Linked DNA regions of Homo sapiens. The protein of the gene in region 1 purifies or fractionates together with the protein of each later gene. This does not show direct contact. Each region holds a gene or a part of one and is shown in the gene's direction. Other genes may lie near its edges. The genes, in order: VNN1, SEMA3C, COX18 and XRCC1.

Region 1 (4,619 bases):
CCCTGATGGCCGTTACCAATACAACACTGATGTGGTATTTGATTCTCAAGGAAAACTGGTGGCACGCTACCATAAGGTAAAATTAATTTGCAAATAATCCAATTAGTTAATGCCTAATGAAATAAAGTGGGCAAGGAGAAAAATATGTTATTGATAATGATAAGCACACTTTAGAAATCGAGTAGGGGCAAAGCATAGAAAGTAATGATAAAGCGTGGAAAGCTCCTATAAAGAGGCTTAAGGGGTTCCGTGTACATATAAGAACACAGGAGTGTGTTTTCAGGAGTGTGTAGCAGTCAGAAAGTGCCGCATGCATTATGTTGCCTAATGTTGCCTTTTGGACTTTGTCCTTTTAAAGGCATACCCTGGCAATGGGTCAAGGCTAGAATGAAAAACTGCTTACCACATAGACTCTGTCTTGAGGAGAATGGAACAAACAAAGTTCCTTGCCAAGGAAAACAGTTAAGTCTACTTGGCAAACAGAAGTAATCTATTTTATGTCTTATAAGATTCCAGTGGGTCTTTATAGATAAAGATACCCATGTACATATTTGTAATGTGGAGACTGAACTAAAGGCCCAGTTTAGCTAGAATGGCCTCTGATTCTCTAAAGCAAACTCATTTCCCATGAAAACACTGATCATAGATGAAATTGGCACTAAGATGTGAGCTTGTACTTTTTCCCACACTGTGATGTCCAGATCAACTTCCTAAAATAATTTTTTTCTCTTTATCTTCTGTTTATTGCAGCAAAACCTTTTCATGGGTGAAAATCAATTCAATGTACCCAAGGAGCCTGAGATTGTGACTTTCAATACCACCTTTGGAAGTTTTGGCATTTTCACATGCTTTGATATACTCTTCCATGATCCTGCTGTTACCTTGGTGAAAGATTTCCACGTGGACACCATAGTATTCCCAACAGCTTGGATGAATGTTTTGCCACATTTGTCAGCTGTTGAATTCCACTCAGCTTGGGCTATGGGCATGAGGGTCAATTTCCTTGCATCCAACATACATTACCCCTCAAAGAAAATGACAGGTAATGTGTGATCTTAAAGATATGCAGGCTGATGTAATCAGAAAAGAAAAGAAAAAAAAAACATGTTTTTCTAGCTAACGCATACTCCTTAATACAATGTTTTCCAGCTCTTAATTTTTGAACATCTAGCTGTTAATATGCTATAGAATCAATCTCAGTCTAAATTGTTTTGTAGATTTATTTGGTTTTATTTAACTTGATTTTTTTTTCAAAATATATGACTTCTTACATACAACTCTCCCTTCTTGGCTTCTTGGTTTCATACTTTAATTGATTTCCTCTCACTTCTCTGTCTTTATCAGCATGTTTTACTGAAATTAATAAAACATATAACTTAGAGAGAGTAAAATGTGAATATGAGGTTAAAATAGTAATAACAATTATGAAATCCCTTTTTACTTTCCAATTTCAAATGATGTTTTCAACTTATTACTTCCAGGAAGTGGCATCTATGCACCCAATTCTTCAAGAGCATTTCATTATGATATGAAGACAGAAGAGGGAAAACTCCTCCTCTCGCAACTGGATTCCCACCCATCCCATTCTGCAGTGGTGAACTGGACTTCCTATGCCAGCAGTATAGAAGCGCTCTCATCAGGAAACAAGGAATTTAAAGGCACTGTCTTTTTCGATGAATTCACTTTTGTGAAGCTCACAGGAGTTGCAGGAAATTATACAGTTTGTCAGAAAGATCTCTGCTGTCATTTAAGCTACAAAATGTCTGAGAACATACCAAATGAAGTGTACGCTCTAGGGGCATTTGACGGACTGCACACTGTGGAAGGGCGCTATTATCTACAGGTAATATTTTGATGTCAGAAGAGTTACTGGATAAAATAAAGACACTCAGTTAAATATACAGTTTAGATAAATAATGAATGATTTTTTAGTATAAGCATATCACACTTTTGGGGATTTATGTATGCTAAAAATTTTGTTGTTTATTTGAAATTCAACTTTAGCTGGGAAGCCTACAAATACAGGCTAAATTTATTTGCTAAATCTTTTTTTTTTTTTTTTGAGACAGAGTCTCACTCTGTAGCCCAAGCTGGAGTGCAGTGGTGCATCAGCTCACTGCAAGCTCTGCCTCCTCGGCCAAGCAATTCTCACGCCTCAGCCTCCCAAGTAGCTGGGACTACAGGCGAGTGCCACCATGCCTGGCTAATTTTTTTGTTGTTGTTGTATTTTAGTAGAGACAGAGTTTCACCATATTGGCCAGGGTGGTCTCAAACTCCCCGAGCTCAGGTGATCCGCCCACCTCAGCCTCCCAAAGTGTTGAGATTATAGGCATGAGCCACCGTGCCCTGCCTATTTGCTAAACCTTGAAACCTTAGATGTCAGTTCAATTTTAAGCTGATTGGGAAAAGGCAGGACATTTACTTGCAGTAGCAGTATTAAAAATAAATATTCAAATTACAGATCATTATAACAGGAGTTCATTGAAAACCCATTTTATTTCCTGCCTGAACAAATTAAGCCATTTTCCTTATATGTTCACAAATGCCTATCTTGCTTTATAAAGAGTTTGACACTAAGTATATCCTGGATATGAATGGGGTTGACCACCAAGATAGTTCAATGGAATGGTTTATTGCTGCAAAGATCCAATCTCTCATTGCTCGCAAGTGGCCTCCATGGTCCTCTCATTCTTCTCTTCTCTTCCTTGGTCTGGCCCCCATCTTATCTCACTTAACAGGGCTTCCTATTGACAGTCTGACAATCTCAGCTCCATCCAGTCAGTTCTCCATATTGTAGTTACAGAAATCACAAAAAGCTGTTTTTGATTATAATACTGTCTGGCTTAAAATTCTTCACTGACTTCTAATTGACAAATCAAATTTCTTAACATGAAAGACACACAAAGTCTAGATGTGTGGTCCCTTCCTATTCTCTATCCTCTAATCTCACTTCTACTTACAAATATCCTGGGCTTCTGCAATATTGAAATATTTTCCCATCTCCTATTTGCTAGCATATGCAGAACCTCAAGGTGTTTGCACAGATTGTTTGGTCCTTTATCCGTGGCGAGCCCCACCTACTAATCTTTCATAGCACTTTTCTGGTGTTATCGTCACCAAGAGGGGTTCCTGGATATTTCCCACAGAGCTACTCCTACCTCTCCAGATGAGTTAAGTACATCCTTTATGTGCTCCCAGGACACCCTATGCTTAGCTTTATCAAAGACATATTATGTCATAGTATTCACTTACTTATTTGAGACTGAGAACCCCTTGAGTGCTGAAATTATGCCAACTGCACAGTATTTTGTTTGCTCTATGATAACTACCCTAACAATACTTTTTCGTTTTAGCAAATGAAGGCCTACTATATGCCAGGTATTTATTTAGTGTTAATGATATGAAGATAAATAAGCATAGATCCTCCTCTTGAAGAATTCAGTCTTTAGTAATGGAGAAAGACATTTGAACAGATAATTTCAGCATAGGTTGGCATGTGATTGTCCGTAGAATGCACATTTTGCTGGAGGAGTACTAAAGAGCTCTACTTAGATTAATTTGGGAATGCAGGGAAGTTTCTGGAGCTGATGCTATTATCCAGGTGAAAAAGAGTAGGAGGGGATTCTTTGTGGTGTGAAGAGCATGAACAAGGGTGTGGATGCAGGCAGGAGCAGGGTCTGCAGGGAACAGCAACAGGTCAGTGCTACTAAGGCAACTGAGGCATGGCTTGCGAAGCTGGGTTTGGTGGGAAATAAGCCTGGAAGCAACATCCTGTCCTGCAGGATCTTACCTAGCACACTTAAGATTCAGCCTTTATTCTGTGGGTGATGGTCAGCTGGTGGAAGTGGTCCAGTGAAGGAATGATGTGGTCAGATCTACCTTTGAATATATCATTTTTACTACTCTGTAGATGATGGAGCAAAGACCCAAAAGACTAGATTATTAAAATAGTCTTATTAAGGGTCTGGACCAAGACTGTGTTTGTTGGAATAAAAGCAGGGCATGGAGTCTAGACATATTTAGAAAATGGAACTCAGTGGCCAATTTGATGTGGAACAGGAAAACGGAATGGAGAGTCCAGAATGTGGCAGATTTCTGGCAAGAATGGCTGGGTGGGTGAGATGCATCTGACAGATCAGGAGGCAAGAGAGGAGCAGACTCACTGACAGTGGGTAGAGGCTGAGTTCAGTTATAGATGTGCTGGTTTTGAAGTAGTTATGAGACATTCAGCTGGACCCAGCCAGTTGTCTGTTGAATACTTTGGTCTGATGCTTAAGGGAGATACTAGAATTAGAAATATTGTTTCAAAAATCAGCAAGATACAAGGGGCAATTAAGCAAACAACAGTGAATGATACGACAAAGGAGACTGTACTGACAGTAAAGAACTATTGACAAAGTAGAACCTTTGGGAGCTTCGGTATTTGGGGCAGGAAAGGACAGAGGACAAGAAACCTGCAAATACAATTAAGAAATAAAGGAAAATTTAAAAAGAGAACATCTGGTAGATGCCAAGGAAGTAGAGACTCTTGGAGGAAAGAAATCATGAGGTGTATTAACACAATACGTTGACCATTATTAGCATTTTTGAGTATAATTTTGGCAGAATTTTCTGAGCTC
Region 2 (4,619 bases), on another chromosome or scaffold:
CACCACGTTGGCCCGGCTGGTCTCGAACTCCTGACTTCAGGTGATCCGCCTGTCTCAGCCTCCCAAATTGTTGACATTACAGGCGTGAGCCACTGCGCCTGGCCCTGTTTTATTTATTTACTTTGTGATTCATTTTCCCTTTTGTGTGTGCTGAATTTTTAGTAATAAAGCTGCCAAAGTCTCCAGGTCTTTGATAGTATGTAAATGAAAGACTATGGAATTTTATAAAACATCTTTTAAAATCACCCTCAACAAATAAAAGAATCCCTGTGAACTAATGAACTAAGCCCCAAAGCTGATGAATTGTTATTGGACAATAAACTGAAAATAATAAATTGCCTCTTTATGAGCTCTGGTAGCATTAGCATTACAAGGCACGTTTGTTGAAATAGTTTTTGTTGTGGTTGCCCAAGAAATGAAAATAAAAGCAGTTGTTCTTGATTTCTCCGTTAATCTTGGAAGATGCTTACTCTGGGTGTATTGAATCTTCTCAGGTTTGTGTTACTGAGAAGTATTTAGTTCTCAGGTGTGTGTTATGGCATTTTCTTTTAAGTCTCCTTATGATGGTTTCAATTAAATGTCACTGAAATATCTTGAAGCACACATGAGTGTTTTAGTAAACCCAAACTCAAGGGGTGCTCTGTGAATAAAAAGTTCCTTCTACTCTCCCCCTTGTGAGAGTTTAATTGAACTCAGCAAAGGATTGATGAATTCACTTGTGAGTTGGACATTACCTGAAACATGAGTCTAGAATAGAGTAACACTAAATTTGTAAAGCAGCAAGGTAAAAACTGTTATAAAATACAATTGCAATGGAAGATGAGAAGAATTGCTAAGAAATGTAGCCTCGTATGTCTATTTTCCCCTGTAATATGTATTGATATAGGGCTCTGGTAATCAAAATAAAATAATATTTCTAGTAGACTTGAATTGGAGGGAGGAAATTTTATTTCAGGTATTGCAAAGAACATCTCTTGAAAATTTTAGGATAAAAGGTGTTACATTGATATGCTGTGGATTTCTCCTAGAGAAAAAATTTTAGAAAAATGTGTAAGCCTATATTTTCCTGTTTAAAAAAGTAATTACTGTTCCAGGTGAGTTTCATCAGATTATAATAAGCTTGATTCTGTTGCCAATAAATGATATTCTGTGTTAAGCCATTCAGAGTTACAAGGTTCCTACAATTGGGAGCAAAGAAGGAATGCTTTAGTGTTCTGAAGTTAGAAGAGTGAGCTTGAGTGTTTTGTTAATCGGTCATACGAACACAGCGGTTCCATTAAAAAAAAATGTGGTCGAGCACGGGGGCTCACGCCTGTAATCCTAGCACTTTGGGAGGCCAAGGCGGGTGGATCACGAGGTCAGGAGATCAAGATCATGCTGGCTATCGTGGTGATACCCCGTCTCTACTAAAAATACAAAAAATTAGCCAGGCATGGTGGTGGCCACCTGTAGTCCTAGCTACTCGGGAGGCTGAGGCAGGAGAATGGCATAAACTCGGGAGGCAGAGCTTGCAGTGAGTCGAGGTCGTGCCATTGTACTCCAGCCTGAGCCATTGTACTCCAGCCTGAGCAAGAGAGTGAGACTCTCTTTCAAAAAAAAAAAAAAAGGTCCTATTCTATGAATTAATAGACATGCCTAAACATGTTTACTAAATTGAACTCTTTATCAAATGAAGATGGTGCAAGTGATCCTAGATAGCTTATTTTAAATTTGTTCACATGTTGATCATATATGTTGATATGTTGTTCACATATATTGATAAAACGATGTTACTTAGCCTTTATTTGCAATTTTGATTCAGAAGATATATCTAGAACCAAAGTTATACATTTTCGCATTCTTCCTAGGTGTATACTACTTTTTGTCTTCTTTGTTTCTAAAATAGTTTTGGCAATTAAACACTAACATTAATACTGACTTTGTGGCAGCCATTTCTGTAGCTGCCATGAGAATTAGTTTTAAGATCCACAAAGATCACAATGAAAGGAAAAAGGAAAAGAATTTTTCTCAGTAAGATATTCTGTAAACATATCATGTTAACTATGTCATGCTAGAATTTTACATTGCTCTTAGAACATCAAACCTGCCTGAAAATGAAATAAAATTCATTCCCTATATCATCCCAAATTCCCCCTTTAATTTATGATTCATCAAGGTGAAGATGAGGGGAATTACCTCTCTGGAACATGTTTATTTTGTTGCTGTAACTGAGATCTCCCTTTGTGCCTATGCGAGCAAGTCAGTGCTTAGATGGATAACAGTAGAAAAAAATTATTATACACTCTCCTCATTTCATTATGCAAATTTATCAGGATGTATCTCCATAAATTCACTATACCTTGCACTGTCTTTTAAAACAAAAGATTCAGATGTTCTTTTTCATGGATATCATTCATTGCATTAAAAAAATGGCACCGAGACACACTCAATTTTTTCTTTCATAAACATCTTTTATATAAGGAGGTTGTAAAAAATAACTTATTTTAAATAAAAAAACTATCACTTTGCTATAATAAAGAACTATCACTTTGGTTTTAGTTCCATTACTGTTAAAAAAAAAAAAAAAAAGAACGAGCATTGGGAAATAGAGCTGTGAGCTTTGGGCAGATTCCAGCACTTTTTTGCCTTCTGCATTTTCATTTATATATTACTGAAGACCTCTGTTGTTAAGGAAAACACATTTAAAGGCAAGGAACAGAAAGGTAAGATGTTCTGTAGCTCAGAGTATGAGTTAGCAAGAAGGGCACATGGAAGGTAGAACTAAGTGCTGAGCCATGTGCTATTTTAGGGTAGCACTAGCCATGAAACAATTTGCTGAGCTGTAAAAGATGGCAAGTATGTTCCACGTTTTAAATTGCAGGCTTTTCAGAAACAATCATTTCAACCCATCCTCCTTATCCAATGAGAATGAGCTGTCTTTAAGCTCTCAATAGGGATATGTTACTTCTGTAAAATGCTTTTTACTTTTCAAATAATTCCCTTATTATTTAATTTATTATAGAATGCCTATGAAGTAAATTGGCATGGAGGCTAAAGCTCTTGGTTAAGGTTCTACAGCTTAATGGTGGCATTGACAAGACTAGAAGACAAAATGGTATAAGAAGAGAAAAATTAATTATGAGCAGTGCTTGTATAGAATCAGAGATACCCTGCAAATGTATGTTACAAAATCTGCAGAAATGCAAGGCTATTAATATGAGTATTAACAACTTGCTTCATGATATTTCTTCTCCAAGTATGTACAACACTGTAGCTTTAACATACCTTACATTTTTAATTAACTGCTGATTTTCAGCAGTAATTTGAGGATCATTATATATCAGGCTTTAAATCTGTTCAACACCATATTTTAAGTGCCTCTCAATTCTCTTTGCGAAGATTGAGGCAATACATAAATAAGAATAATTTATATTTTCATTTATCTCTAATTCATGCAAATTAATGAACATACTAGTCTTGTCTTTCCTTCCCCAAGTTACTGCTCTTGTAATCAAGAGCTCGTTTGATGTGCTATGTACATCAGGATTCCATATTCCCCTTAGTCAATCCCTAGAATATTCCACTCTGCTCATTTATGTATTGCCTTAGAGTGAAAAATCCATTAAAGTAATCTTATGTTCTGGTTTGAACTGATGCCACTGAAAATGCTAAATATTCTTGCCTTACTCAACTTTAACGCTTGCTAGCATTTAAGATTCTTGATAATAAAAGTATAAAACATTCTACCTAATTAATTTCTAAATTACTACCTTAGTACAACTATTTTCTGATAAAAATGATCAGGTACCAGACTTTGAATTTTGAATACAAGATTGCTCTTATATTTAACCTTATTTGTAATATAATGGCTAATGTAAAGTCTCTAGTCTATATGGAATAGATAAACTCAGGGAGTTACAGCAATGTAATTTTACAGAAGATTTCTGTTCCTCAGAGAAGGGAGACAGAATGTTGATCCAGCAGAAAGAAAACCTTAACTCTATGTAGAATTAATAGCTCTGAAGAAGCAACTTCTAAATTATTTTAGGAAAAACTTATTTCCTTATAGATTTTGACTTTCTACAGATAGAATTAATTATGGAGAGAGGATATATATCTGAGTAAAAATAAATGCAGAACTCTCTCACACACACACATACACACACTCACATCGTCTATGAGTAAAATTACATTATATTTGAATACCGTTTTAGTCTTTCCTAAGTGTATACTCTCTTGTATATTCATATAACAAAAACTGTTCAGTCAGAAAAAAGCTGTTGTATTCCTGGTATCATTTTAAATGCATTATTTATATGTTTTCTTATTTTAAATTTATGAATAACCACAGATTTGTAATTATATAATTGGATCATTAGTTTGGTGAACACTTTATTACTTAAAACATTATTGTAACACTTATATAGTGACAGCTTTTAGTGCAAGCAAGCTGAGGACCAGGACAAGAAACTCTGGTGACTTGTGAATTTGAGCCCTGTCTCCCTCCCATTTTTCTGACAGCTGGTGATAGTGAGAACAAAATGAGTTGTTGAATAGCAACCCGCAAAAAGGAAGTAATCCATCCCTAGCACAGATAACGGGGATGTAAAGGGAGTCAATGGGGCACATAATATGTAAAG
Region 3 (4,619 bases), on another chromosome or scaffold:
GGCACTTTGCCATTCTTTTGTGATATTGGTCAACAAATGACACAGGTTATTTACAATCTTGACCTTTTGGAAAAGATACAGCAGGTAATAGCCTACAGGAAAGAGGAGGTAGAAAACAAGTGCCACAGTAGAAACACTTTGATAGCTAAGATGCTGTCTATCCTTTGTGGTTATTCTGTGCAGTTGTCTGCCTGGGTTCTTGGAAAGTCCCAATCTAAGGGTGCTTGATTGCGCCCAAGGATGTCTGCATTCATTCACTGGGAACTTACAAGCCCTCTTGCTTCAATCAACTCCTCAATCAGTTTCCCAAACTCTAATCCTTACTAGACTGCGAAAAATTATTCTCCTTTTTACAGCAATGGAAAAAGGCCTTTGTGGTATCAATCTGTGTTATGTGTATATTATTAACCATATATTTTTATATAGTTGTACATTTCCCAACTATCTTTAATACGAGATTGTGTCCTATATTTAGTGTTAAAAAGATCTGACATTTTAAAAAATCGTGGTGATAGCTTAATGTCTTTATTTGGTAAAAATTAAAAGTTGACCTATAGGTTTGAAATTTTACTTATCAAAGAAGTCGAAAGCTTCAGCCATAGGCCAAAAGAACCAGATTAATAGCTGCTTGCCTGGGTTATCAACGCAGCCTAGATAAGACTTGTGGCACCTTGCTTAAGCAGTACTGGCAGGATGGTTGTGCAGATACAGCCTTACAGATGTTTCTTTCTAGGAGGAAACATCTGAGGGCTTCTGGCATTTTCTTTTCTTTTCTTTTCTTTTTTGTTTTTTTGAACAAGACAGAATCTCCCTGTGTTGTGCAGGCTGATCTCAAACTCCTGGCCTCAAGCAATCCTCCCACTTTGGCCTCCCAAGTAGCTGGAATTACAAGTGCAAGCCACAGTGTTGGCCAGCTTCCTGCATTTTCAATAGTATTGAGTCTTGAAGGGTAAAAGACGGTGTGTCAGATGGACAGCCAGGAAAGTGGGCTTTCCACACAGATGATATAATACAGTACTTCCAAAGGCATGCCTATGCGGAAGTCTGATTTGTTGGATGAACTAAAGTCATTCAGACCAGAATATGCAGGTGTCTAGAGGAGTAACGAGATAAAATTGGAAGAATAGGCAAATGTGAAATTATGGAGGACCTAGAATGTCTTTGTGTACTGTCTTATTATACACTATAATTTGACTAAATTCAGAAAAACTATTGAATGCCTCCTCTGTACAAAATATATGATACAGGAGATTTAAAGATGAATAAAATAGAACACTGTCCCCTAAACTAAGAATACTTTAGTTTTTGTTTTTTAACTCCTATTCTCTTGGACCTGAAGGAAGACTGTATTCTAAAAAGTAAAATTTCAGGAAAAAACAGTAGTAACTAATATGGTTAACAGAGAAACAGATTAAAAATATCTTTGTGAGATAGTTGATTGAAAAATGGAGACTATTTTGACAGGCCAAGAGCATACACAGTATAAAACCACATAGCTCCAAAAGGTATATTCAGGGATGAAGTGGTTAAGTTTGGCGGGAGTGGAGAGATTTGATTAAAGTTTGCTTTTAGCTTCCATATTTCCAATATTAATTGTAGTTATACCATGTCAGTAGTGAAATTTACCTTTAAAGCCTAATCAGCCAAAGACCACCAGAGACAAAGCCTGTAGTCTGACAATTTCAGATTGTTATGTAACTTGTGTACCATACTGTAGAAGTTTTGATAAAAGGCTTTATTTGCCTGTTGTTTAGGCAACTCCTTAACATGCCTGTGACAGCTGAAACCCTTATACAAATCCTTTAGCTAATAACTACAGCAGGCGCTATTTGTGCTATGGAAATAAAGCACGATTCTTAGATGACATTTTCTCTTTCCCCTTTTTTCCCCCTAACCTCAATCTAGGCTCACTTATCTAAAGAATATGAGGAGGCTAATTTCAGAGCTATATGTGCGAGATAACTGCCACCCTTTCAAAGCCACTGTGTTGGTTTGGATTCAGCTTCCAATGTGGATCTTCATGTCTTTTGCTCTCCGGAATTTAAGCACGGGGGCAGCACATTCAGAAGGTAATTATTGTATGTCTTCTCCCAAAGAAGTTCTCTAACATTGTCTTTGTACTAAAAAAAAAAAAAAAAAAAAAAAAGCATACTTTTCATAATTACGATATGTTTACTATCTTCCTTATAAGGGTATAGAATTTAAAGTCTTAAGTGTAAACAGATTGGTTGTGTTGTGAACATTTTGTATTGAGAAAAAATATATATATTGTGCGTGAAAAACTGGAATAAATCCAGTGCAGATCTTTCCTGTGAGGGACACCTTATTGGAATTGTCAGACTACTTATTTATGTCTTATATATTTTTCTCTGCTATTTTTAGGACTTCTATTGTTTTATTTATAAAACTGTTTTAGCAGGTTTTTCTGTTCAGGAACAGTTAGCTACTGGTGGAATTCTGTGGTTTCCTGACCTCACTGCACCCGACTCCACTTGGATTCTGCCTATCTCTGTTGGCGTCATCAATTTGTTAATAGTGGAGGTCAGTAGTTTTAAATGAAATTTGTTTGCCATTTATGGGGATTTTTGTTGCTGCTGTTTTGACTTCAAATCTGTTTTTGTTTGAGTTGGTGAAGATAGCTCTGAGTTAGAAGTGAGATCCCTTGGTTCCTGGTTCCACGTCAGGCATTGGCTTAGGCCTGTCCCTTAACCTCTCTGGGCCTCAGAACTCTCGAAATTAAAGTAAAAGCACTAGTATACTTCCAAGTCTCTTTCAGCTTCAAAATTATATGATTCTGATACATAGAATTTTGTGACTTGCTTTTGGCAAAAACAGTAATAAAGATGCCCAGTCAATCTGGTTGTATTCTTAAAATAGAGTGATGTTCCGTGTGTGTGTTTAATATGTGAATTTGTAGGCGGAGAACACAAGTCAGGCCCTGACTGCTATTTTCTTGCTTTATGACCTTAGAAAAGTCATTGAATGTCTTTATAAGATGAAATGGGAAAAACATACACATAGAAAATGTGACCTCTCAGTCATGTCTTTTTTTTTCTTTTTTTTTTGAGATGGAGTTTTGCTCTTGTTGCCCAGGCCGGAGTGTAATGGCGCAGTCTTGGCTCACTGCAACCTCTGCCTCCTGAGTAGCTGGGATTATAGGCGCACACCACCACACCCGGCTAATTTTTGTATTTTTAGTAGAGACAGGGTTTCACCATGTTTGCCAGGCTGGTCTCGAACTCCTGACCTCAGGTGATCCACCCGCCTTGGCCTTCCAAAGTGCTGGGATTACAGGCATGAGCCACTGTGCCCAGCCCTCTCAGTCATGTCTTAACCCTTATCACAGGCTGCTTTACTCAGCAGTTTAGGGAAAGCGTGCATATAATTTCATAAATTGTTCTCAGACTCTGAGTAGAACAGACTGGACTGGAAGAAATCTTAAAAATGATTTACCTCAGTAGAGATCTCCCAGACCTCATGACCTCTGATGCCTGTTTGTGAAATCTAATATACCCCTTATTCTTTCAGATGAGGAAAATGGAGATGATAGAATATAAGGTCTTAAGTGAAAGTTTCTTGAGGAAAGACTCTACCTGTAGTCCAAATATGTTTCCCTAAGAGCACTAGCACAGTCCCCTGTGGTTGGTGTTCAGTGAATATTTGGTAGAAAGAAGGAAGTGATAAGCACAAGGTTACAGTGAATCAATGTCAATCCCCTAGTCTTTTCCTCTATGTCATCTAAAGACTAATAAAGGTGTTTTCATAGCGGGGCATGGTGGCGTGCGCCTCTAGTTCCAGCTACTTGGAAGCTGAGTCAGGAGGATTGTTTGAGCCCAAGAGATGGAGGCTGCAGTGAGTTGTGATCCCACCACTGTACTCTAGCCTGGGCGACAGAGAGAAAGACCTCACCTCTAAAAGAAAAATAAAAGCTTATTAAAAGCTTATTCTTACTCAACATACACTATGTGCAAGGCATTGTGTTTTTTGTTTGTTTGTTTGTTTGTTTTTTTCTTGAGACAGAGTCTCACTCTGTTTCCTAGGCTGGAGTGCAGTGGTGTGATCTCCACTCACTGCAACCTCCACCTCCCAGGTTCAGGTGATTCTCTTGTCTCAGCCTCTCGAGTAGCTGGGATTACAGGCGCCCGCCAACACACCCAGCTAATTTTTTGTATTTTTAGTAGAGACTGGGTTTTACCATGTTGGCCAGGCTGGTCTGGAACTCCTGACCTCAAATGATCCGCCCGCCTCAGCCTCCCAAAGTGCTGGAATTACAGGTGTGAGCCACTGTGCCTGGCCATAGGCATTGTTATAAGCAATTTACATAAATCAACTCATTTACTTCTTGGAATAACCCTGTGAGCTAAATATTATCCTTTTTTAATGCAGAGAAAGTGAGGCATAAAAATGTAAAACTACGTAGTTTGGCTCTAGAGTCATAATTATGGAGAAGTCTTTTTTTTTTTTTCCTTCTTTTCTTTTTTTTGGAGACGGTCTTACTCTGTCACCCAGGCTGGAGTGCAGTGGCGTGATCTCAGCTCACTGCAACCTGTGCCTTCCAGGCTTAAGCGATCCTCCCACCTCAGCCTCCCTCCTGAATAGCTGGGACTGCAGACATGCCA
Region 4 (4,619 bases), on another chromosome or scaffold:
TGGTGATGACTCTTAATGAGCATGCTGCCTTCAAGCATCTGTTTAACAAAGCACATCTTGCACCGCCCTTAATCCATTTAACCCTGAGTGGACACAACACATGTTTCAGAGAGCACAGGGTTGAGGGTAAGGTCATAGATTAACAGCATCCCAAGGCAGAAGAATTTTTCTTAGTACAGAACAAAATGAAGTCTCCCATGTCTACTTCTTTCTACACAGACACAGCAACAATCTGATTTCTCTATCTTTTCCCCACCTTTCCCCCTTTTCTATTCCACAAAACCGCCATCGTCATCATGGCCCGTTCTCAATGAGCTGTTGGGTACACCTCCCAGACGGGGTGGTGGCCAGGCAGAGGGGCTCCTCACTTCCCAGAAGGGGCGGCCGGGCAGAGGCGCCCCCCACCTCCCGGACGGGGCGGCGGCCGGGCGGAGGCGCCCCCCACCTCCCTCCTGGAGGGGCGGCTGGCCGGGCGGGGGCTGACCCCCCCACCTCCCTCCCGGATGGGGCGGCTGGCCCCCCACCTCCCCCCCGACGGGGCGGCTGGCCCCCCACCTCCCTCCCGGACGGGAACCTGCTACTGTTGTTAGAGCTAGGAAAATCCTTTTCCTGGAATGTTAGTGGCTTAAGGAACCATGATTATAGTGTTGTAGTCTTTAAAATGTGTTTGCTTTGAGATTTTCCCCTTAAATGGTGGGTATTTTCCTAATGAGAAACTGCCTTTGATTCTTAAAGGAGAAAGTTCTGATTTTTCATTCCTTTCTGAATTGAGACATTTCTTCCCCAAGAGGGAGGGGAATTCTGGGTACTGTGGTTCATGCCTGTAATCCCAGCACTTTGGGAGGCTGAGGTGGGTGGATCACTCGAGGTCAGGAGTTCGAGACCATCCTGGCCAACGTGATGAAACCTCGTATGTACTTAAAAAACAAAACAACACAAAAAACACAAAATTAGCCAGGCGTGGTGGCACATGCCTGTAATCGCAGTTACTGGGGAGGCTGAGGCAGGAGACTCGCTCGAACCCTGGGAGGTGGAGGTTGCAGTGAGCCAAGATCACGCCACTGCACTCTATCCTGGGTGACAGAGTGAGATCTTGTCTAAAAAAAAAAAAAAGCGGCCAGGAGTGGTGGCTAACGCCTGTAATTCCAGCACTTTCAGAGGCTGACGGGGGCAGAGCATGAGGTCAGGAGATCGAGACCATCCTGGCCAACATGGTGAAACCGTGTCTCTACTAAAATACAAAAAGTTGGCGGGGCATGGTGGTGTGCACCTGTAATCCCAGCTACTAGGGAGGCTGAGGCAGGGGAGTCGCTCGAACCTGGAGGCAGAGATTGCAGTGAGCCGAGATGAGGCCACTGCACTCCAGCCTGGCGATGGAATGGACTCTGTCTCAAAAAAAAAAAGAGGGAGGGGAAGAAAGGGGGTACCCAGGTCTGCAGGGCAGGTGGCCAGACTGACTGGGTTCACTGGGGCCTTCCTGAGCTGGGAGAGAATGGGCTGGGAACAAGACCATGAGGCCCACTAGAGTGAGTATTTTAGTAAATGCCAATGGCTGTTGCCTCCTGAACGCCCTCCCCACTTCCCTTGGGCCTGTTTGTCTGAGGCCCGATTTGTCCCCTAGGTACCTCATGGCAGGGCCAGGTTCCAGCAGTGAGGAGGATGAGGCCTCTCACAGCGGTGGCAGCGGAGATGAAGCCCCCAAGCTTCCTCAGAAGGTCTGATGCCCCCTGTCCAGTGGGGGAGGGTGTAGTGGGAGGATGACATGAGTCCGCTGTGGCACCCCAAACTTCCCACTCTTGCCTCTTGCAGGTACCCCCCCAACACACCCACACTGTTCCTGCCCTCCTCACCCACCCACTCTCCCTCCTTAGCAACCCCAGACCAAAACCAAGCCCACTCAGGCAGCTGGACCCAGCTCACCCCAGAAGCCCCCAACCCCTGAAGAGACCAAAGCAGCCTCACCAGTGCTCCAGGAAGATATAGACATTGAGGGGGTACAGTCAGGTCAGACTCTGAGGGAGGAGGGGCTGGGGCCTGGGCTCCTGAGTCTGAGGGAGGAGGGCCTGCGGCCTGGGCTCCTGAGTCTGAGGGAGGAGGGGCTGGGGCCTGGACTCCTGAGTCTGAGGGAAGAGAGCCTGGGGACCTGGACTCCTGGGTCTGAGGGATGAGGGGCTGGGGGCCTGGACTCCTGGGTCTGAGGGAGGAGGGGCTGGGGGCCTGGGCTTCTGGGTCTGAGGGAGGAGGGGCTGGGGGCTGGACTCCTGTGTCTGAGGGAGGAAGGGCTGAGTCCTGGACTCCTGGGTCTGAGGGAGGAGGGGCTGGGGCCTGGACTCCTGGATCAGAGGGAGGAGGGGCTGGGGGCCCAGACGACTGGATCTGGAGGGCAGTTGAGGCTGGGGGCATGAGATGCCTGGGTCTGTGCCATACTGGGAGAGCTGCCAGTCTTCCCAGGAGACAAGGCAGCCTTGCATTGACTGAGCTTCTACTTGCAGAAGGACAGGACAATGGGGCGGAAGATTCTGGGGACACAGAGGATGAGCTGAGGAGGTAGGGCTGGGGCTGGGGGTTGGGGTGTCCCTGGCCTTGGGTGTAGGGGAGGCTGCTCTGCATGCTCACTCTCTACTCCTCTTGGCACCCCCAGGGTGGCAGAGCAGAAGGAACACAGACTGCCCCCTGGCCAGGAGGAGAATGGGGAAGACCCGTATGCAGGCTCCACGGATGAGAACACGGACAGTGAGGAACACCAGGAGCCTCCTGATCTGCCAGTCCCTGAGCTCCCAGGTGGGAAATCCCCCCATCCCTCCTGAAGTGGCATTTTCTCTTCTCAGTTCTCAGCTGGGACTTGCCCTGGCCAGCCCTGGGGTCACTGCTGCCCCCGTGTCTTGCCTCCCCTCTCCTTCCTCAACCCACTCCCTGCCTCAGCACCTTCAGGTTCTGCCAGGCTTGTTCCTTTCCTTTCAGCATCCTCTCTGTGACTTGCCTTTTTCTCCCCTCCAGATTTCTTGTTCTGACCACTCCCCTCGCAGCCATGTGCCAGGTGTGACCTCCTTTTTTTCACGTCAGGGGTGAGGGCCCCACCCTCATGCTAGTGCTTCACTTGCTCAGGTGCCGTTCTGTTGGTCTGGGGTGAAGCCGGGCACACCAGGTGACAGGGGCACTGCTCTCTGTCAGGCCCTGGGTGGGTGCACACCAGTGTCTGCTTTAACATCAGCCATCACTCTGGACGTGGATGCTGTCTGCACACATTGTGTGTTTGCATTTCCAGTGTAAAAGAATAAGAACAAAAGGAAATGGGGAAACTCTGCAGGGAGTTGTGGGATGAGGGGCAGGGAGGCAGAGCTTCTTCGAGAATGAAGGGAGCAGAGGAAAGACAGTCACGGGCTGTGCAGAGGTGTGGTTCTGGGGCTTCCAGAAGAGCCGTTTCCACCCAGTTCCTCGTGGGTGATGGGCAGGAAGATGCTTTGATTCTCCCAAGCCCCTAAAGTGGCATCAGCAAATTGATGGCCTAGAGAGTCACCTTAAAATGGAAAGAAGGAGCCACCCCAAAGGTCAGAACAAGAAAGGCACTGGTTGGAAAGGAGAGCAAAGGTGAAGAAGTGGCAGATACTGACGTTTTCAGCCTGGACTAAGCTCATTAAGTGGCTCCAGGCAGGCCAGGCGTGGTGGCTCACCCCGTACTTTGAGAGGCCGAGGTGGGAGGACTGCTTGAGTCCAAGAGTTCAAGACCAGCCTGGGCAACATAGTGAGACCCCCCCCGACCCCCGCCTTTACAAAACATTTTAAAAATTAGCCGAGCGTGGTGGTGTGCTACTCAGTAGTCCTGGCTACTCAGGAGGCTGAGGTGGGAGGATTGCTTGAGCCCAAGAGTTTGAGACCAGCCTGAGCAACATGTCAATACCCCGTCTCTCTACAAAAAGTTTAAAAATTAGTCTGGCTTGGTGGCATGCACCTGTAGTCCCAGCTACTGGGGAGGCTGAGATGGGAGAATCACTTGAGCCCAGGAGGCAGAGGTTGCAGTGAGGCAAGATCACGCCACTGCACTCCAGCCTGGGCGACAGAGTGAGTCCTTGTCTTAAAAAAAAAAAAGAGAGAGAGAGAGGTAAGTGGCTCCAGCCTGTCGGTCAGAAACAAATCACAATAATAGGCATTGTATCTTCTACCATTAAAGCAAACCAACCAACCAACCAACCTACCTCCCCAGGAGGCTCTGATGGGCCGCTGGGCAGGGTCCACTGCCTGCCATCAATCCCTGCCCACATGTGGACAGCCCTCTCCTCAGCTGCTGGGTCAGCCTCGTCACTCCTGTTTGGTGCCTGGGAACTCCTGGGGCCTCATGCTTACCTTAGCCCCCTTCTCTCCTGCAGATTTCTTCCAGGGCAAGCACTTCTTTCTTTACGGGGAGTTCCCTGGGGACGAGCGGCGGAAACTCATCCGATACGTCACAGCCTTCAATGGGTGAGTCTCCAGGGACTGGGGTGGGGAAGGGGTGATGGATCCAAGGGAACGCTCAGGGACCTGCTGGGAGGGGTGGGGGTGTGGGAAAGAAGACCATCAGGAGGATGGAGAAGGGCCATGCCCAGCAGGTGGGCACAGGTCATGGAATCCGAATGCTAGCTTGC

The links.
Region 2: the proteins of VNN1 (region 1) and SEMA3C purify together in Homo sapiens (affinity purification with mass spectrometry; one large-scale study listed by BioGRID and IntAct). This does not show direct contact.
Region 3: the proteins of VNN1 (region 1) and COX18 purify together in Homo sapiens (affinity purification with mass spectrometry; one large-scale study listed by BioGRID and IntAct). This does not show direct contact.
Region 4: the proteins of VNN1 (region 1) and XRCC1 purify together in Homo sapiens (affinity purification with mass spectrometry; one large-scale study listed by BioGRID and IntAct). This does not show direct contact.

What each region holds. Positions count from the first base shown.
Region 1 is NC_000006.12:132,689,447-132,694,065, reverse strand, and holds part of VNN1 (pantetheinase precursor), read left to right. Parts: coding exon 1-76; intron 77-750; coding exon 751-1,042; intron 1,043-1,481; coding exon 1,482-1,843; intron 1,844-4,619. UniProt on the Homo sapiens protein: Amidohydrolase that hydrolyzes specifically one of the carboamide linkages in D-pantetheine thus recycling pantothenic acid (vitamin B5) and releasing cysteamine.
Region 2 is NC_000007.14:80,908,604-80,913,222, reverse strand, and holds part of SEMA3C (semaphorin-3C isoform 2 precursor), read left to right. Parts: intron 1-4,619. UniProt on the Homo sapiens protein: Binds to plexin family members and plays an important role in the regulation of developmental processes. Required for normal cardiovascular development during embryogenesis.
Region 3 is NC_000004.12:73,062,700-73,067,318, reverse strand, and holds part of COX18 (cytochrome c oxidase assembly protein COX18, mitochondrial), read left to right. Parts: intron 1-1,905; coding exon 1,906-2,069; intron 2,070-2,416; coding exon 2,417-2,541; intron 2,542-4,619. UniProt on the Homo sapiens protein: Mitochondrial membrane insertase required for the translocation of the C-terminus of cytochrome c oxidase subunit II (MT-CO2/COX2) across the mitochondrial inner membrane.
Region 4 is NC_000019.10:43,543,980-43,548,598, reverse strand, and holds part of XRCC1 (DNA repair protein XRCC1), read left to right. Parts: intron 1-1,621; coding exon 1,622-1,715; intron 1,716-1,871; coding exon 1,872-2,004; intron 2,005-2,492; coding exon 2,493-2,547; intron 2,548-2,641; coding exon 2,642-2,781; intron 2,782-4,364; coding exon 4,365-4,455; intron 4,456-4,619. UniProt on the Homo sapiens protein: Scaffold protein involved in DNA single-strand break repair by mediating the assembly of DNA break repair protein complexes. Negatively regulates ADP-ribosyltransferase activity of PARP1 during base-excision repair in order to prevent excessive PARP1 activity.